3 linked regions of the Homo sapiens genome follow. The protein of the gene in region 3 purifies or fractionates together with the protein of the main gene of each other region. This does not show direct contact. Each region holds a gene or a part of one and is shown on either strand. Other genes may lie near its edges. The genes, in order: ASAP2, PPP2R5B and KNDC1.

Region 1 (3,648 bases), on a different chromosome or scaffold from region 3:
TCTGGCACATAATAAGTGCCCCATAAATGTTAGAAAAGACAAGGGGGAGGCTGGGCACGGTGGTTCACGCCTATAATACCAGCACTTTGGGAGGGCAAGGCAGGAGGATCACTTGAGTCCAGGAGTTCAAGACCAGCCATGACATGGTGAAACCTTCTCTACAAAAAAATACAAAAATTAATCAGGGACCGGGCATGGTGGCTCACACTTGCAATCCCAGCACTTTGGGAGGCCAAGGTGGGTGGATCACTTGAGGTCAGGAGTTCGAGACCAGCCTGCCCAACATGGCAAAACCCCGTCTCTACTAAAAATACAAAAATTAGCTGGGTGTGGTGGTTGGCACCTGTAATCCCAGCTACTCAGGAGGCTGAGGCACAAGAATCACTTGAACCTGGGAGGCAGAGATTGCAGTGAGCTGAGATGGCACCACTGCAGTCCAGCCTGGGTGACAGAGTGAGACACCGTCTCAAAAAAAAAAAAAAAAAAAAAAAAATTAAACAGGCATGGTGGGGCACACCTGTAGTCCCAGCTACACAGGAGGCTGAGGCAGGAGGATCGCTTGAGCCCAGGAGGTCAAGGCTGTGGTGAGCCAAGATCACACCACTGCACTCAAGCCTGGGCAACAGAGCCAGACCCTGTCTCAGAAAAAAAAAAAAAAAAAAAATATGAACTGACATTGACTTCACCCACACTCTGGATATCCCCAACACACTCTTGCAACAGCAGCAGCATTTCAAATCCATACCCTCACTGAAAATAACACACACTGCAAAGTCTCCCTTAAAATTCTGGGTAGGTGGTGCCCATGAATCTTCTGGTGCTTCACAATGGAACTTGCCCTGCAGAGTCAAAGGCAGTACATGCCGTGTGACACAAACAAGAAAGGCACAAATAGGAGAGCTGGGTTGTAGGACCTACCCAGCTCAGAATCCTAATTACAGGACTCAGAAGGTCCAATGTGCAGCTCTGCTGAACTCTTGAGGCATGCACAAGTATATGAACTGACCTGTGGGATCAGATGAGAAGCTGCCAAGCCATAACCCTGAAAGAACAGAGGGCACCCCACGGATGTAAAACCACAGTGGATGGCTCCCCGCCAAGAGCGCTTCTAAACACCTTTAGCGCCTCATAATTCTAACACTGGCCTAGGGTGCAACTCTTCTCAGCTAGACTCTTAGAACCAATTCATGGCAAGGACAGTATAATAATTATGAAATATAATAATTATATTTAACAAACAGAGTGGTTAAAGAATCCATCACTCCAAAAAAAAAAAAAAAACTAGCTAAACAAATCTTACCATCAAGCCTGGAATTCTCTGTCTGAATCCAGGGGGTCCATAAACTTGGATTGGAAAAAAAAAATTATCTGTATTTTCATTAGGGTCTAACTGAAATTTATCGTATCTTTCAATTACAAATGTAAGCAACACATGGTAATATTATCAATACTTGCAATAAAAGATATGAACATTACATTATCTTTATTAGAAATATCTCGTATTGTTTATATTCATCAATACCTCAAAATTAAGGTATTTGTTAGACCCACCAGTAAATCTTGTTATTAAATGCTTTAGTAAAGAAGCATTATGAGCATGGTAAAAATTTTTAAAATATTCTCCTAACTGAATTTCAATATACAGTCGTGCTCCACATAGTGACATTTCAGTCAACAATGAACCACACAGACGACCTCTCATAAGATTATAAGAGGGATTTTTACTGTCTTTTCTATGTTTAGATACACAAATACCACACATAAATACTGTAACTGTGTCGCAGTTACCACGGTATTCAACACAGTGGCATGCTGTAAGGTTTGCAGCCTAGGAGCAATAGGCTCTTAATATATAGCCTAGGTGCCTGCATGCCATCTGGGTGTGTGTAAGTGCACTCTAGGATGTTCGCACAATGAAGAAATCTTAACGATGCATGTTCGTCATTAAGCAATGCATGACTGTGATTAGTTTCCTTCGGAATCTTATTTTGTTCTCTGCATTAAAACATTTTTCTGAAGAGGCAGATCACCTTCGCCAGAGTGTCAAAGGGAGCCATGGCACAAACAAGGTTAAAAGGATGAAACAGAACTGCACATAAAACATGAGACTATTAAGTGCTTTCTAAGGAAGGAGCTAGTCCTGTTCACTTTTTTTTTTTTTTTTTTTTTAGACGTCCAGGCCATCCTGTCCACTTTTACATCCCTGGCACCTGGCAGTGACAACATACGGTAGGGGCCCAATATACATTTATGAGTGAAGAAACTAAATCAGTCAAATCCCTTCATAGAAATGACCATCATCATAAAAATACAGCCCAAGTATTCCAGCTCGGGTTGGTAGTCTGTTTATTCCAAGACATTGTTGACATGATAAAAACGATAATGGTATAAAAGCACCTGGAAAGGCAGCCGGGCGCAGCGGCTCACGCCTATAATCCCAGCACTTTGTGAGGCCGAGGTGGGCGGATCACCTGAGGTCAGGAGTTCAAGACCAGCCTGGCCAACATGGTGAAACCCCATCTCTACTAGTAATACAAAAATCAGCCGGGCATGGTGGCAGTCACCTGTAATCCCAGCTGCTCAGGAGGCTGAGGCAGGAGAATCCCCCTTGAACTCGAGAGGCAGAGGTTGCAGTGAACCGAGATCGCACCACTGCACTCCAGCCTGGGTAACCGAGCAAGACTCCACCTCAAACAAAATAAAAAAGAAAAAGAAAAGAAAAAAAGTACCTGGAAGGGCCCTAGCAATCCACTTGGAGGCCACATTACACAGAAAAGGCGTAAGCAAAGGAGGTAGGTTCATATCACGGAACGTCACCTCTCTTTAGTAGGGAAAGAAAGAGGAGTGTTTGGGGAGCTGAAATGGGGATAGCATCCCAGGCATCTGACAATGCCCATAAGTATCACCTGCTGTAGTCTGCATAGAAACAGCAGAGGGTCGCATGAGCAGATCCCTCAGTCTCAGTCTATGCAGCCATGCTTCTCTCTTTCCCTGGGCCCCAGTCTATGCAGCTATGCTTCAATCTTTCCTTGATTGACCCTGGAACTGGTCCCAACACAAGTCCTATAACCAGTCACATCAAGCAGCACAGAGCTGGCCTGGATTCTGACACTAAGTAGCTCTAGACAGCAACAGCTTCACCATGGGGATGCTGGAAGGTCTGTTCAGGGGGCTTGGATGAACTGAGCTTGGCTGTTGCCCTGTTTGGGGCAGGAGTTCTATTGGGTCTACCTCTATGCCACTAGCACACAATAATGACAATCCATCAGTAGGTTTGGACCCCTCTTCTTGTACAATGGACCTCAATCAGGCCACTTACCACCACCCCCCCTGCTACCTCCTCATCCAAGACCTCTTGCCTAGATGACTGCAATAGCCCCTCACCCCACAACTGGTCTCCCTCTTTCCTTTCATGCCCTGCTAGTCTGTTTTCCCTAGAACCACAGTGAAGTCTTTAAAATGGATATCGGACCATGTTATTCCCTGCTCAAAACCCTTCAACAGCTTCCCATCACACTAGAACAAAATCCAAATTCCTTCCCCAAGATGGACAAGGCCCTCTGTGACCTGGCACTGCCCACCCCTCTGCCCGTCTCTCATCCTTCTCTTCCTCGCCCACTCCTCCCCACACACCCTGACCTTCCTTCA
Region 2 (3,648 bases), on a different chromosome or scaffold from region 3:
GGACAGTCAACAAACTCATCTTTATAAATTTTGCAAAAGGTTCCATAATATGGCTAGTGTGGTGGCTCACGCCTGTAATCCAAGCACTTTGGGAGGCCGAGGCAGCAGAATCACTTGAGCCTGGGAGTTTGAGACCAGCCTAGGTAACATAGCAAGACACTGTCTCTACAAAAAAAAAATTTTTTTTAATTAGCCAGGCATGTGGCACATACATCTGTGGTCCCAGCTACTCGGGAGGCTGAGAAGGGAGGACTGCTTGAGCCCAGCAGGTAGAGGCTTCAGTGAGCCATGTTCATACCACTGCTCTCCAGCTGAGGCAACAGAGTACGGTTTTGTCTCAAAAAAAAAAATTGTGTATCAAAATCTCCCATAATAGATTTGTGTATCCAAATATTTGGGAATATAGATGGAGAAGAATGTAATTCTGCCAAGGGAGGGTAGAGAAGAAAAGCCTGGCTTCACAGAGCTGATATCTGAGGTTAGCCTTAAAGCGCCAGTGGGAATTTTCTAAGGTAGATGGAACAGAATTATAAAGACAAAGAAGGTGAGATAGGATCCCTGGAGGATCTGACCTCCAGGACCCACTGGCTGCCCTGACTGTCTGGAGCTCCTGCTGCAGCAGGGACAGGCCTGGGCCTCACCTGGGCATGGAAGACAGACAGCGACTTGACAGAGTGCAGGGGGATCAGGACGCGAACCAGGAACTGCTTGTGCTCCGTCTTCAGGGGCAGCGCAAAGCCATTGATGATGCTGAGGAGGAGGCAGAAGAGAGGAAGAGGGCTCAGGTGACCTGGCCCCAGTCCCTCCTTCCAGAATCCTGAGCTCCAGCTGAGGCCCAGGGAGAATCACCTTCCTAGGATCTCCAGCAGCTCAGCCACACCATTGAAGTGCTCGAATTCATAGATGAACCTGCAAGAGAAGAACGCAGGTGGGCTCAAAGCAAGCAGGGTAGGCCCAGTGCCCCCTTAGGCATCCTGCCTGCCCACCCTCACCTGCACGGCACGCTCATCCAACTCTCCCCCAACCCAGAGGCTGCGCTCCCTTCCCAACATCCCAAACCAGGCCCCATTGAGATCCCCGCCCCCCCACACTGAAATGCCCTTCTCAGCCCAGCCACCTCTGCCACTGAGTCCCAAGCTCAAGGCTCTCTTGCCAGTCAACCAAGAGAATGACAAACACTTAGCACATCTACTCCGTACCATGTAAGTCTCAGAATTATCCAGGGAGATGGGGCTTAAGAAATCCATCACATGGATGAAGAAATCAAGACTCAGCGGTTAAATAAAACAACCCCAATGTTAATAGGCAGGGAATCTAATGAACTCCAAGGTGCAGGAGGACAGGGATCATGGCTCACCCATTTTGTAGCTAATAACAACTAATGTTTCAGAGTCCCGGCCTCAGTCCAGGAGCTATGCTGAGTGCTTTGCAGGCAAGGCCCCATGTCACCTCGATAATGGTCCCTGAGTTAGTACAAGCAGCATCCCCATTTTTATCTTATCTTTGAGATGGAATCTCGCTCTGTCGCCCAGGCAGGAGTGCAGTGGCGCAATCTTGGCTCACTGCAACCTCCACCTCCCAGGCTCAAGCGATTCTCCTGCCTCAGCCTCCTGAGTAGCTGGGATTGCAGGTGTTTACCACCACACTCAGCTAATTTTTGTATTTTTAGTAGAGACGGAGTTTCACCACGTTGGCCAGGCTGATCTTGAACTCCTGATCTCAAGTGATCTGCCCACCTCCAACTCCCAAAGTGCTGGGATTACAGGCATGAGCCACTGCACCCAGCCAGCATTCCCATTTTAAAGACGAGCAAACTAGGAGAGAGCTTAAGTAATTTGCCAAAGTTCACCCAAACGTTGGAACCAAACTCAAATGTAGGCCATACAGCTTCAGAGCCATGGTCTCAACTACAAGGCCACGTGAGCCTTGATGCCCAGTGGGTGCTGGTGCTCAGTGCATGTTTGCAGAAAGAATCTCTCTCTGGGTCCTTATGGCCTGGCATGATAAGGGTCAAATGATTTAGCTCCTAGGCCCCTGGACTGACCCAGTCCCTGCAAACCATTTCATCTCTCTTGGCCTCTACTTTCTCATCTGTAAAATGGAAATAAATACCCATTCTCTGTCAACTTCACAGGCTTTGTATAATCAATATGTAATACGTTACTGAGAAAGGGCTTGGAAAACAGAAGTTCTACAAGGGCCCCTGCAGCCCAGGAGCCTTTGCTGCAGTCTTCTTTTTTTTTGTTTTCTTTTCTTTTTTTTTTTGAGACACAGTCTCCCCGTTGCCCAGGCTGGAGTGCAGTGGCATGATCTCGGCTCACTGTAAACTCCACCTCCTGGGTTCATCCGTCTCGCTCTGTCGCCCAGGCCGGACTGCGGACTGCAGTGGCGCAGTCTCGGCTCACTGCAAGCTCCGCTTCCCGGGTTCACGCCATTCTCCTGCCTCAGCCTCCCGAGTAGCTGGGACTACAGGCGCCCGCCACCGCGCCCGGCTAATTTTTTGTATTTTTAGTAGAGACGGGGTTTCACCTGGGTTCAAGTAATTCTTGTCTCAGCGTCCCAAGTAGCTGGAATTACAGGTGCCCACCACCATGCCTGGCTAATGTTTGTATTTTTATTAGAGACGGGGTTTCACCATGTTGGCCAGGTTGGTCTCAAACTCCTCACCTTAGGTGATCCACCCACCTCGGCCTCCCAAAGTGCTGGGATTACAGGTGTGAGCCACCGCACATGGCCTTTGCCGCAGTCTTCTAACAGCCCTCTCACCCTCCCCAGGTCTCTGCTGGGCAGGCAGCAGCCACTCACCGGAGGAAGATGTGGTTGCACTGTTTGCGGATGTAGGCCCGGAGACCCAGGAACTTGCCATAGACCCGGTGCAGGATGGTCTTGAGGTACTCACGCTCCCGGGGATCCTCACTATCAAATAGCTCCAGGAGCTGTGGGAACCAGAGTCAGGGTCAGGGTCAGGGTCAGGGGAAAGGTCCACCCCAGGTTGCTTCCATCCTATCCCTGGCCCCTCAGAGAGCCTGCCCCTGCCTTGTGGTACCACCCAGCCTGGGCTCCCCACTTCACCATCAGGACAAACTTTTGATCCACATATCTCTTGGCCACGGAGGGCTGGAAGTCTGGGCTCTCCAAGAAACGCAGGAAAAACTCATATACCAGCTGGGGGAGGGGGACAGACAAAAAGGTGAGTTCAGTAACAGCCTCACCCACTCATTCCACCCTATGGCCCTCATCCAACTGTCTAGGGGCTAAGGAGGCCCTCTCCCCATGCCTTGGATCTCTTCTGAAACTTGGATCTCTGTCTTCCCCAACCCTTCAGACCTGCAGGTGTGGCCACGAAGGCTCAAGATTGGGCTCATCCTCTTCAGGGTCAAATTCAGGGTTCTCACTGGGCGGCAGAGTCCGGAAGATATTCACTGAGATCTGAGTGGCAGAGTTGGGGTTCATTAAGGAAAAGCCCTTGAAGACAGAAGCCAGGGAGTCTCTCATTCAAAGCTTTTTTTTTTTTTTTCTTTCCCAAGACAGGGTCTCGCTCTGTTGCCCAAGCTGGAGCGCAGTGGTACAATCTCGACTCACTGCAACCTCAACCTCCCAGGCAGGCTCAAGCGATCCTCCCACCTCAGCCTTCTGAGTAGCTGGACT
Region 3 (3,648 bases):
TCCTCCCACCTCAGCCTCCCGAGTAGCTGGGATTACAGGCATGCGCCACCACACCTGGCTGGGATTACAGGCATGTGCCACCACACCTGGCTGGGATTACAGGCACGTGCCACCACACCCGGCTAATTTTTGTATTTTTAGTAGAGATGGGGTTTCGCCATGTTGCCCAGGCTGGTCTCGAACTCCTGGACTCAAGTGATCTGCCCGCCTTGGCCTCCCAAATTGCTGGAATTACAGGCGTGAGTCACCATGCCCGGCCAGTTGGGGCTTAAACTCTTTTTTATTACTCCAAAAAGCTTCATTTTTTCTTAGTTTTCTGACTCTGTGCTTGTGCCTCAGCACTTTCCCAGCGATTTTCGTTCCTTGAAGGGGAAAGCACTAACCCTGAAGGGATCCCACAGGAACACACACAGTGCACACAGAGCCACTGCAGCCTCACGGACGCGGTTTTTGTTTGAGACAATCTCATAAGAGCTTCAGGTCTCACAGCACCAACCCCCTGAGGTCGGCCTGGGCCACCTGCAGATGACAGTGCTTTCCCAGCCTTCTTGGTGTAAAGGTGAACGATCTATTGCTGGGGTTCAGGACAGCCTCTTTTCGTTACAGGCTAGACTGCAGGAAAGCCTTCGATGGTTTGGCAAATGGTGGACCATTCCGAGTTTCTCTAGACAACATCCCCAGAAGATGAAAAAGCGCGGCTTTTAGTGTGCGCCCATTGCTTTTTCCCGGTCACCGGCTTCTTTACCTCCAAGTCTCAATATGTGAGGCAGAAGGAAAACCCAGGGCACTCACGGCTGCCTTGTTCCTTGGTCCAGAGGCCCCTCGCCGGCTGCCGTCTCCTCCCCCTGCAGGTGGCCTGGTGCTTGTTTTTTGCACAGTGTGCAGGGTGCTTACTGCAGGGTGCTTAGTGCAGGGTGCTTACTGCAGGGTGTTTAGTGCAGGGTGTTTGTTTAGTGCAGGGTGCTTAGTGCAGGGTGTTTAGTGCAGGGTGCTTACTGCAGGGTGTTTAATGCAGGGTGGTTAGCGCAGGGTGCTTATTGCAGGGTGTTTGTTTAGTGCAGGGTGCTTAGTGTAGGGTACTTAGTGCTCTTCCTCGGTGGGAGGAGCGGGAAGTACACATTTCTATCATTCCTGAGTGGAAGTTTTACCTTGATTTTGAATGTAATTTATTGAATTGTATTTAAATTTGTGTAATTTAAATTTTAAGAATGCTCATGTTTCACAGGTGCCTTATACACATCCCTGGTTGTTTAGCCCTTAGTTCTCGTGAGCCAGGAGGCGCAGCTCTAGTGCACATGGCCAGTGCCGTCCACACCAAGCCCTGTCTTGGTGCCCCGGCCAGAGCCACGGCCCTGCTGGCAGATACCGCCTGTGGCCGCCTGGCCAGGAAGGGCTGCCCTGACTCCCTCGAGTCCTGATGGGGGGCTGCTGGACAGATGGGGGACGTGGCATCCCCGAGGGCTGGGGGCAGGGCTGGGGCAGGGTGGGGAGGGCCCGGGTACCTTTTCAGTTACCAGCCTCTCCTCTGCCAGCTCGGGAGCCAGAAAGAACGAGTCATAGGAACCTAAGAGAGAAACCCGACTGAGCTTTCCTCACCCCTGGCGAGCCGGTGCTGGACTCGGCCTGAGGGGAACCCACACACTCACCGTTGGCAGGGGGTGGCTGGAAGAGCACAGCCCCGTCCTCAGCAACCAGCACGGAGTCCAGACACAGGTAGGCTGTGGCAGAGCTTGGGTCAGGGCGGGTATGCATGCTGCCCCGCACTTGGGGCTGGCTGGGGGGAAGGAGCTGCGGAGCCTCAGTCAGGCCGGGCAGCCCCCCAGCCTCCCCATTGCACGGGCACGCACCTGCCAGTGCACGCACATGGCCTGACCCCAGCCCCCGGGGTCCTCGGAGCTGCCTCCTCCCAGCCCTCCCCGAGGGTAGCGCTGCCCCAGCCGACACAGTGGCTGCAGCGGCATATCTGCGGCTGAAAGGGAGCCAAGCGGCAGGGAGAACACGGTAACTTGAAGCCCCCGTGTCACAGGCCCCGTCCCGAGTCAGGGCCCACGGGGCAGCCACGGGCTCACGGTGGACGGACACTGGAGCCGGGTGTGTCTCCGATGGCCTCTCCCCCAGCCCTTTCAGATGCTGCCCTCATCACCCCCAGGACGTTTTTACGTCTCAGATGCACCGTCCGTCTGCCCTGATGTCTGGCAGGGCTAGGCTTTGACGGGGCAGACCCGTGCAATGCTGAAGATTCCCTCCCCACTCCAAAGCCAATTGCTGCCTCCCTGGGGACAATGTCACTGTGTTGAGAATGTGTGGGCGAGGGCCATGGCAAAGTCCCCGTTCCTCTTTACGGCACAGTCACCGGTTTCAAGGCCCACCTTGCAGGCATCTGTCCCCACACCTCCCTCGGTGCTGCAACCCAGCAGGCACCCACAAGGTGCTCCAGACGGGAGCCGCCTGTTCCGTTCACCGGAGACACTGTCCTGGCTGCCCCTGGGTCCCTTGGTTCAGGTGGGGGCCAGTTACGCATGGGACGGCAGGGGTGATGGGACAGTGGGGGGGCGTGGGACGGTGTGGGGGGTGGGACGGCGGGGGTGTGGGACGGCGGTGGGGGGTGGAACAGCAGTGGGGGGTGGGGACGGCGGGGGGGATGGGATGGTGCGTGCGTCACCTGGGTGCTCAGGGCGTGTCTGCAGTGCGCGGAGGCAGGCCAGGCACAGGGCCCACAGCTCGTACTCCCGGAAGGGCCGGCCCAGCTGGGACAGGAGGTCCTGCAGGGACACCCACTGTGGGCAGGAGAGCGGCGAGGTCAGTGTGGACACCCCTTGCCAGGGCCCGCCGCCTGGAGAGGCATGTCCGGGGGACAGGCCAGGGTGAGGCCCACTCAGCCCCTGAGTAGGCGCCCCCCACACCTGATAGAAGGGCTAGGGAGGTCCCTAAGTCAACTCCAGCGTGTGGGGGCCGTGGGGAGACTGGGGCCCTTGGCCCTGTGGGTGGGAACGTCCCACGGTGCAGCCACTGCAGACGACAGTGCTGCCGTTCCTTGAAAAGCTCAACATACACCTCCCAGGTGACAGCAGTTCCACACGGCCACATTCCCCGAGGAACCGAGGGCAGGGCTCACGCATACGTGCACACCCATGTTCCCAGCAGCACGGCTCGAAATAGCCAACACGGGGAGCACCCAGGCATCCACGGACGGACGCAGGGGCAGTGTGGATGGCGCTTGGCCTCGGGACAGGGATGGGGGGTTCTCACGCAGGCTCCCTGGGGAGGAACCGTGAGGACAGTGGGCTCAGTGAAGAGACCAGACACACAGCTCTGTCCATCCCACTCCCACGAGGCCCCTGGACAGAGCTCATGGAGGGGAAGGGTGGGACGGGGTGCAGGGGCCAGGCTCATGGAGGTGGAGGGCGGGACGGGGTGCAGGGGGCGGGCTCGGGGGTTGGGGTTTCGTGTGGGCTGATGGGGACAGCTGTGCAACAGCGTGAACACACCCAATGCCGCTGAGCTGTGCTCTTGCAGAGGGTTGAAGTGGTGGCTTTTGTTCGGTGCATTTTCTCACATACACACACACCGTGACACCAGGCATGCGTTCAGCCTGGGAGGCCACTCTCCACTCCAAGGCCTCACGGACAGCTGGGACCAAAGTCCACC

What was found.
Region 1: the proteins of KNDC1 (region 3) and ASAP2 purify together in Homo sapiens (affinity purification with mass spectrometry; one large-scale study listed by BioGRID and IntAct). This does not show direct contact.
Region 2: the proteins of KNDC1 (region 3) and PPP2R5B purify together in Homo sapiens (affinity purification with mass spectrometry; one large-scale study listed by BioGRID and IntAct). This does not show direct contact.

Annotation. Positions count from the first base shown.
Region 1 is NC_000002.12:9,213,299-9,216,946, reverse strand, and holds part of ASAP2 (arf-GAP with SH3 domain, ANK repeat and PH domain-containing protein 2), read right to left. Parts: intron 1-3,648. UniProt on the Homo sapiens protein: Activates the small GTPases ARF1, ARF5 and ARF6. Regulates the formation of post-Golgi vesicles and modulates constitutive secretion. Modulates phagocytosis mediated by Fc gamma receptor and ARF6. Modulates PXN recruitment to focal contacts and cell migration.
Region 2 is NC_000011.10:64,927,583-64,931,230, reverse strand, and holds part of PPP2R5B (serine/threonine-protein phosphatase 2A 56 kDa regulatory subunit beta isoform), read right to left. Parts: intron 3,430-3,648; coding exon 3,328-3,429; intron 3,166-3,327; coding exon 3,073-3,165; intron 2,937-3,072; coding exon 2,806-2,936; intron 910-2,805; coding exon 850-909; intron 751-849; coding exon 642-750; intron 1-641. UniProt on the Homo sapiens protein: As the regulatory component of the serine/threonine-protein phosphatase 2A (PP2A) holoenzyme, modulates substrate specificity, subcellular localization, and responsiveness to phosphorylation.
Region 3 is NC_000010.11:133,187,668-133,191,315, reverse strand, and holds part of KNDC1 (kinase non-catalytic C-lobe domain-containing protein 1), read right to left. Parts: intron 2,778-3,648; coding exon 2,663-2,777; intron 1,719-2,662; coding exon 1,647-1,718; intron 1,565-1,646; coding exon 1,503-1,564; intron 1-1,502. UniProt on the Homo sapiens protein: RAS-Guanine nucleotide exchange factor (GEF) that controls the negative regulation of neuronal dendrite growth by mediating a signaling pathway linking RAS and MAP2. May be involved in cellular senescence.